Regions from separate parts of the Homo sapiens genome. Here region 2 is linked to region 1. The links come from fine-mapping of genetic effects on gene expression. A gene starts in region 1. The other region holds a variant in brackets. All regions are shown on one strand. Distances are between the middles of the regions.

Region 1 (4,385 bases):
GAGCTCAACTGCAAGCCCCTGGCGCTTACCAACGAGCCTAGTTTCAGTTAATCCCTATTCTAGGTTCAATGCTTTAAGACGCTTGTCTGGGGACGTTCAAGGATGTTAACCCCTTTCCTAGAAAAAGAATGGGCCCTGCACCGACTCTAATCCTGGGCTTTTAAGTCCCTGTCTCCTACCGCCCAGCCGCGGCAAACCTGAAATATATATATTTCTCAATCCTGCTGCCCAAGACTCTAGGGCTAGTGGAGGGCAGAGCCCGAGCACAGAGTCAACTGCAACACCGAAGTTGGGCGCCCTCCATTCGCACTGACCTCGCCTTCCTGCCCCAACCACTTTGTCGGCGGTGAGCAAGGAAAGGACTGTCCTTGTGGAGTCCTTCGGGTGGGGATCGCTTTGTGGCCTGCGGCCGGACTCTGCCCGCCTCCAAAGGGCGATGCTCAAGGTGGAGTCTTTGGTCTCCCTTGGGCTAACCTGGCCTGACCAGCGGCGAGCCCCAGGCCGCCCTGTCCCGCGCTGGCGCCGCAGGCCCTCGCCTCCCTCTAATTTACAGCCCGCGGGCTCCTGTTGACACCGTTTTCCACACCGAACTCCTTCGGGTGGAATCTGCATATACACATCAGCCTCCCCTCTCGGCTTGGGGCCAAGCCTGGGGTGATTTCAGCTCCTGCCATTTACCACCCGCCCTCGCCGCACGTGAGCCTTCTCAAGAAGCTCATGCCACACGGGCGCTGCGGCCCGGGTGCCCCGCGGCCCGGTGACTTACAAGTGGAGATCCATTTTCCGTTATAATGCGTTCAAGATCACCAAGGCCAGCAGTCTCAACATCCACGAGCCGTCCTCCCGGCCTGCCTCTTAAACTGGCGTTTAATGGTTCCCCTCCGATAACTAAACCTGCTTTCCACAGATGCCCGCTTTTATGAGGGAGGCAGGAATGCAGAGATATATTTATATGTTTGTTCATAAAAACTGGAAAATAAGCTCTGAACACGCCGTAAAAAATATTCAGTTACTTACCAAACAGGCTAGTTAAACCAGGGGAACACCGATACCAGCCACACTACAGATTCGGGGAATCGAGGTGCCCGCACTTCAAAATCGCCCAAGGTCTTCGTAGGGACTGGTGTCCCTGAAGGATGTGGAAATAACAGCATTTACAATCGGCTTGACATGTTCGCCCGGAGGACTCAGCCGTCATCTCCAAAGTTTGCCGCAATAACGTGAGCCACCCCAAACAGCTCTAACCGGGGTAACTTGGTGGGTAACTCAATAGCCACTGAGACCGGCGTTTCGAGCCTGTAAACGGGTCAAAGAAACACCCTTCTCCAGCCGCTCCTCGTCCCTGCTGGGGCAAAGAGCGCCAGCTCCCAGCCGCGCCTTTGTGGGGGCCCCCACCGCCCGTCACGAGGCTCCCGGCGCCCCTGCATAAAATTGTAAGAGGCTGCCTGCGTATATTTTCTTACCTCGATTACCTACAAAGCACTTCGAAAAGCAATACCTGCGTTTTCTTTCTTTCTTTCTTTTCAACCAGAAAAGAGAGCAGAGTGATACTGTACCTGGTTAGAGATTCTTCAATATTTGAGACTTGGGGGGAAAATATTTTAATAGTGAAGCATCTGTTAAACACTTGCATTATCCTCTGACTGATAAAAAAAGTTTTTTTAACCCTGCCCCCCCCCCCCGCCAAGTTTTAATTATCTTATGGTTATGAGGAGGTAGCCAATCCTGGAAGAGGACCTCGGCAATTAGCAACGTGAACATCAAAAAGTTTTATTGCCGAGAGCTCGAGGCGCCGCCCCTGCCGCCCCGGGATTGGCGTGAGGAGCCTCTGACGACATATATTAACCCGAGCGGCCCTAAAGATGTAGCTGTACATGGAGATCTTGCTGGGAAAATCCGCTTGCTCCCCTCACGTCGTCCAGCCCAGGAGAACCACCGCCGTCACCCCGGAGCTTCCTCGGCCACCGCGCAGAGCCCTCCGAGAGCCCGAGCCGCGGTCTTCGAGCTCCAAGGCTCATTCAGGGCCCCAGATCCTTGCCCCGAAAGGAGAGGATCTGAGAAAATGGATGCACTGAGACCTCTCTGAAAACCCTCCGAGAGAGCGCGAGAGGAGCGAGGACACGTTACTCGCAGCTAAAATCACATTTAAGGACCAAAACAACAACAACCAAAAATTTCATTAAAACAATAAGCGCCCAAGAACCCAGATCGGGCTGGTGGGGGGAGGGGAAGAGGCGGGAAGGGGAGGGTCGCACGGAGGTAGCTTTGCAGTGAGCAGTCGACCCCGCCGCCCCCCGGCACAGCTGGACCGGCTCCTCCAGCCGCGGCTCAGACTCGCCCCTGGATTCCGGGTTAGCTTCGGTGCCAGGACCGCGGCCCGGGCTTGGATTCCCGAGACTCCGCGTACCAGCCTCGCGGGAGCCCCGGCACCTTTGTATGAGCACGAGAGGATTCTGCCTCCGCGCAGCAGCCCGGGAAGCAGGAGCCGAAGCGCGGGCCGTGGAGCAAGGCGGGAACCGGAGGCGGCGGCGGCGGCGGCCAGGGGCGCACGGTGCCAGGACCAGCTCGCCGCGCCCCATGGGGAGCCGGCGGCCGCAGCGCTGCTGAGGCGGGCCCGGCTGGCCAGGCGGGGGGACGGGGCCCGGGCTGCAGCAGCCCCCTCTGCGGCTGCCGGGCGGGCCCGGGCGCCCGGGGGCTGGGGGGTGGGGGGTGGGGGAGGACGCCGAGCGCTGAGGCAGGGGCCCGGGCCGAGGGCGCGGCGGGGCTGCGCGCACGCTGGGGCGCGTGGAGGGGCGCGGAGGGCGAAATGAGTCTGGTAGGTGGTTTTCCCCACCACCCGGTGGTGCACCACGAGGGCTACCCGTTTGCCGCCGCCGCCGCCGCAGCTGCCGCCGCCGCCGCCAGCCGCTGCAGCCATGAGGAGAACCCCTACTTCCATGGCTGGCTCATCGGCCACCCCGAGATGTCGCCCCCCGACTACAGCATGGCCCTGTCCTACAGCCCCGAGTATGCCAGCGGCGCCGCCGGCCTGGACCACTCCCATTACGGGGGGGTGCCGCCGGGCGCCGGGCCCCCGGGCCTGGGGGGGCCGCGCCCGGTGAAGCGCCGAGGCACCGCCAACCGCAAGGAGCGGCGCAGGACTCAGAGCATCAACAGCGCCTTCGCCGAACTGCGCGAGTGCATCCCCAACGTACCCGCCGACACCAAACTCTCCAAAATCAAGACCCTGCGCCTGGCCACCAGCTACATCGCCTACCTCATGGACCTGCTGGCCAAGGACGACCAGAATGGCGAGGCGGAGGCCTTCAAGGCAGAGATCAAGAAGACCGACGTGAAAGAGGAGAAGAGGAAGAAGGAGCTGGTCAGTACCAGGGGGCGGCAGGCGGTGGGGCTGAGGGGGTCAGGGAACTGGTGCTCCCGGCCTCTTTCCAATTGGGCTGAGAAATGGCATCTCGTGTTCTTTGGCTGCGTCCCGCTTCAAGGTTGTTTGCACCAGGTTGTGTAAGGATGGCTTCCGGCATAAGCAGAGAGTTGAGGGGAGGGTGTCAGCAGGAGGAGGAGAAGGTTAGGGATGCTTTGCGCTGGTGATCTTACCTCCGGGTTATCGCTGCTCCCCTAGTACTTAGGACGGACCTTGAAAACTCTGGGTCGCGATCGATCGCGATCGCACTGGTCTGGATGCCTCACCCCGTCTCTGTTAGACCCTTCTTTTGGCCTCCAATCCAATCTTGCTTTCAGATGTTTCCAGAATAAGTCTCGAAGAAGCCCTTGATTCCAATTATTTCACTATTGATCGCACCCCCTACCCCACTCCCAGAAGGAGGCTGCCAGAGACTGAGCCCTGAGTTTTGTGGTTGTTCTCATACTATGCCCGGAAAACGTAATGGTAAACATAAAATAAGTACTTTTGACTTCAAAATACAGCTCCAATTTTTCCTTGGCTATGACGTTAAAATGTAATTTCCCAGATGAGTATATTCCATTGGCATTTCTAATTTTATTTGAATAAGCCTGTACATTTTAAGGGGGAAAAGGCATTACTATGGTCATTGTTATTAAAAATAACACGAAAGTAAATTGAGCCGCTTAAAATTTTCTCAGATTCCTACCAAGTGCCCACAGGGCAGTGGTGCAGGATAGAGCTATGTCCACGAAGGGCCCGGAAAATAATTGCATTTGTCGAATTTTTCTTCTTTGGCCCCTGCAGCCCTTTGGTGGCTGCATAATCGAGTGACCTCCCGAATAACCAGAGATTTCAGAAGCCTTGGAGGAGAGGCACTGCTGAGCTGGAGGCCGAGAGCCTCTGGCCGAGAGGCCCAGGCCGAAACAGAGGCTCCTTCGCCCTATTTTTCCTAGATGTGGATCTAGGATTGCTAATGAAAACA
Region 2 (4,385 bases), 200 kb before region 1:
GCAGGGTATGTCTTTTACTTCCAAAGTATTTATTCTCATATTTATAGTGCTTTTCTTCTAGGTAACATGTATTTGGGTCTTATTTTTCTTAAATCCATTTTGATAATCTCTGCCTTTTAATTGGAGTATTTAGATAATTTACATTTAATTTTATTATCAATATGGCTAGGTTTGAATCTATCACCTTGCTATTTGTTGTTTTCTAATCCATTCTTTTTTTAGGGGGGGTGGGGATGGAGTTTCACTCTTATTGCCCAGGCTGGAGTGCAATGGCATGATCTTGGCTCACAGCAACCTCTGTCTCCCAGGTTCAAGTGATTATCCTGCCTCAGCCTCCTGAGTAGCTGGGATTACAGGCATGCGCCACCACACCTGGCTAATTTTTTTGTATTTTTAGTAGAGATGGGGTTTCACTATGTTGGTCAGGCTGGTTTCGAACTCCTGACCTTGTGATCCGCCCACCTTGGCCTCCCAAAGTGCTGGGATTACAGGCGTGAGCCACCATGCCCGTCCTTCTAATCCATTCTTTATCCTTTTTTCTTCTTTTTCGTTTGATTAAGTATTTGTTAATGTTCTATTTTGTCTCCTCTACTAAACAACATACCTCCTTTTTAAAGCGACTTTGCTAGTGTTTAAAATATGCATCAACTAATCACAGCCAATCTTCAAATAATATATCATTAAGTGTAGTATGAAAACTTTAAACACTATAAATTCCATTCGTCCCTTCCATCACTGTGCTATCATTTTCATTCATTTCACTGATACATTTGTTATAATGCCATATATTGTTCTTAATTTTTTAATTATCATGTAAAAAATTTTAATGAGAACAAATATCATATTTGCCTACAGATCTACCACTTTCAGTGCTTTTCATTTCTTTGAATAGATTCGTTTCCATCTGATATCATTTTCCTTCAAAATGAAGAATATTTTTTAAACTTTCTGATATGCAGGTCTCCTTGTAACAATATTTTTTGCTTTTGTTAGGCAGAAAATATCTTTATTTTGCTTCATTTGTGAAAGAGATTGTCACTTAATATAGATGCTATGTGAACAGGGGTTTTTTTCCCCCTTTGGCATTTCAAAGATGGCTTGTATTGTTTCTATTAAGGAGTCAGTGATAACTCTTATCCATATTCCTTTTTATTTAATATGTCTTCCCCCATGTCTCCTTGCACTTAAGATTTTCTCATTAATTTTGTTTTCAGCAATTGATTATGTTGTACCTTGGTATGGTTTACTCTGTGTTTATTCTTCTTGAATTTGTAGATTTATAGTATTCATCAAATTTGGATGAGTTTCAGGCATCATTCTTTAAATATTTGTCCCGTTCCTCTTTTACTTGGGCTTCAGTCTCACTATATTAGAACATTTTGTATTATCCACGGGTCATAGAAGCTCTAGGCTTTTTTTCTCAGCCTTTTTTTCTCTCTTTCTTTGTACTATTTTTTTTTTATGGTTTCTATTATTCTTACTTCAAGTCCACTTATCACATCTTCTGCATCTTTAATCTACTGTTAAGACTATCTATCGCATTTTTAATTTCAGATCTTGTATTTTTCAACTCCAGAAGTTCCATTTGGTTCTTTTTTATAGTTTCCATTTCTTTATTAAATTTATGTTTTACTTTAAAGCCCAAGCACGTTTATAATAGCTATATTAAGGTTTTTGTCTTCTATTTCTAATATTATTTTTATTTCTGCTTCTGCTTCTATTGACTTATTTCACTGGTTATGGGTCATATTTTTCTTTTTCTTTGTATGTCTAGTAATATTTTATTAGAGGTGAAAATTATAAATGTTACATTGTTAAATGTGGTTGCTAATTTTTTTGTGTCTACTTGACTGGGCCACTGGGTGCCCAGATATTTGGCCAAACATTAGTCTGGGTGTTTCTATGAGAGTGTTTTTGGATGAGATTAAGATTTAAATCAGTAAACTGAGTAAAGCAGATTGCCCTCCATAATGTGAGTAGGTCTCATTCAATCACTTAAAGGTCTGAACAGAAAAAAAGCCCAACCCTCTCCCAAGTAAGAGAAAATATTCCTGCCTGACAGCCTTTGAACTGGGACATAAGCTCTTTCTGGTTCTATAGCAGTATGCGGCCTTTGGACTCGAACGGGACCAAGGGTTCTGCATATTTCACACTTCTAGGCATAATAAGTCTCTCTCTGTTTCTCTCTCCATACACACAAACACACATTACACACACACACACACA[CAA/A]ATCAGCTCTGCTTCTTTGAAGAACACTAATATATTGTATTTGGATCTTGTTGTCTTCCTTTAAAGAGTGTTGTTTTGGAGGTAGTTAAGTTCCTTAAGAATCAGTTTGACAAATTCCCGGGCAAGATGGCTGAATAGGAACAGCTCCAGTCTGCAGCTCCCAGCGAGACCAATGCAGAAGGCAGGTGATTTCTGCATTTCCAACTGAGGTATCTAGCTCATCTCATTGGGACTGGTTAGACAGTGGGTGCAACCAACAGAGGGCAAGACAAAGGAGGGTGGGGTGTTGCCTCACCTGAGAAGTGCCAGGGGTCAGGAAACTCCCTCCCATAGCCAAGGGAAGCCATGAGGGACTGTGCCGTGAGGAACAGTGCATTCTGGGCCAGGTACTATGCTTTTCCCACAGTCTTCACAACCTACAGACCAGGAGATTCCCTTGGGTGCCTACACCACCAGGGCCCTGGGTTTTAAGCACAAAACTGGGTGGCCATTTGGGAAGACACCTACCTAGCTGCAGTTTTGTTTTTTTGTTTTGTTTTGTTTTGTTTTTTTGTACCCCAGTGGCACCTGGAATGCCAGCAAGACAGAACCATTCACTCCCCTGGAAAGGGGGCTGAAGCCAGAGAGCCGAGTTGTCTTGCTCAGTGTATCCCACCTCCAGGGAGCCCAACAAGGTAAGATCCACTGGCTTGAAATTCTCGCTGCCAGCACAGCAGTCTGAAGTCAACCTGGTATGTTCGAGCTTGGTGGGGTGATGGGCATCCACCATTACTGAGGCTTGAGTAGGCGGTTTTCCCCTCACAGTGTAAAAAAAGCCACCGGGAAGTTCGGACTGAGTGGAGCCCATCTCTGCGCCTCAAAGCCACTGTAGCCAGACTGCCTCTCCAGATTCCTCCTCTCAGGATAGGGCATCTCTGAAAGAAAGGCAGCAGCCCCAGTCACGGGCTAATAGATAAAACTCCCATCTCCCTGGGACAGAGCACCTTGGCGAAGGGGCAGCTGTGGGCACAGCTTCAGCATACTTAAATTTTCCTGCCTGCCAGCTCTGAAGACAGCAGCAGATCTCCCAGCACAGTGCTCAAGCTCTGCTAAGGGACAGACTGCCTCCTCAAGTAGGTCCCTGACCCCTGTGCCTCCTGCTGGGGACAGACCTCCCAGCAGGGGTTGACAGAAACCTCATAGAGGAGAGCTCCAGCTGGCATCTGGCAGGTGCCCCTCTGGGATGAAGCTTCCAGAGGAAGAAGCAGGCAGCTATCTTTGCTGTTCTGCAGCCTCCGCTGGTGATACCCAGGCAAACAGGTTCTGGAGTGGACCTCCAGCAAATGCCAGCAGACCTGCAGAAGAGGGGACTGACTGTTAGAAGGAAAAGTAAAAAACAGGAAGCAATAGTATCAACATCAACAAAAAGGATGACCACTCAAAAACCCCACCCGAAAGTCACCAACATGAAAGACCAAAGGTAGACAAATCCATGAAGATGAGGAAAAACAAGTGCAAAAAGGCTGAAAATTCCAAAAACCAGAATGCTTCTTCTCCTCCAGAGGGTCACAACTCCTCACCAGCAAGGGAACAAAACTGGACAGAGAATGAGTTGATGAATTGAAAGAAGTAGGCTTGAGAAGGTGGGTAATAACAAATTTCTCCGAGCTAAAGGAGCATGTTCTAACCCAATACAAGGAAGCTAAGAACCTTGAAAAAATGTTACAAAAACTGCTAACTAGAATAAATAGTTTAGAGAAGAACATAAATGACCTGATGGAGCTGAAAAACACAGTACAAGAACTTCATGAAGCATAAACAAGTGTCAACAGACAAATCGATCAAGCAGAAGAAAAGATATCAGAGATTGAAGATCAACTTAATGAAATAAAGCATGAAGACAAGATTAGGAAAAAAAAGAATGAAAAGGAACGAACAAAGCCTCTAAGAAATATGGGACTATGTGAAAAGACCAAACCTATGTTTGATTGGTGTACCTGAAAGTGACGGGGAGAATGGAACCAAGTTGGAAAATACATTTCAGGATATTATCCAGGAGAACTTCCCCAACCTAGCAAGACAGGCCAACATTCAAATTCAGGAAATACAGACAACACAACTAAGATACTCCTCAAGAAGAGCAACCCCAACACACATAATCGTCAGACTGACCAAGGT

Alleles and levels. Positions count from the first base shown, and alleles are read on the strand shown. Sizes are in standard deviations (SD) of each study's normalised expression.
For the expression in skin of the gene that starts at base 1,867 in region 1, allele A in region 2 goes with a lower level than allele CAA (large effect, 1.1 SD a copy in TwinsUK).

The links. PIP is the estimated chance that this variant, and not a neighbour inherited with it, causes the effect. A credible set is the group of variants that fine-mapping cannot tell apart.
Region 2: its variant is the best candidate, but not a certain one, in a credible set for the expression of HAND2 in skin (TwinsUK, PIP 0.64).

What each region holds. Positions count from the first base shown.
Region 1 is chr4:173,527,711-173,532,095 of GRCh38, reverse strand. HAND2 (heart and neural crest derivatives expressed 2) reads left to right here and starts at 1,867. Exons shown (of 2, transcript NM_021973.3): 1 at 1,867-3,361. The coding sequence starts at 2,807. HAND2-AS1 (HAND2 antisense RNA 1) reads right to left here and starts at 1,725. Exons shown (of 5, transcript NR_136196.1): 1 at 1,557-1,725; 2 at 1,018-1,129.
Region 2 is chr4:173,726,391-173,730,775 of GRCh38, reverse strand. No RefSeq gene overlaps it. Among named protein-coding and RNA genes, the nearest start is that of LINC02269, 170 kb to the left of the region's middle. The variant CAA/A (reference allele first, on the strand shown) is at 2,227.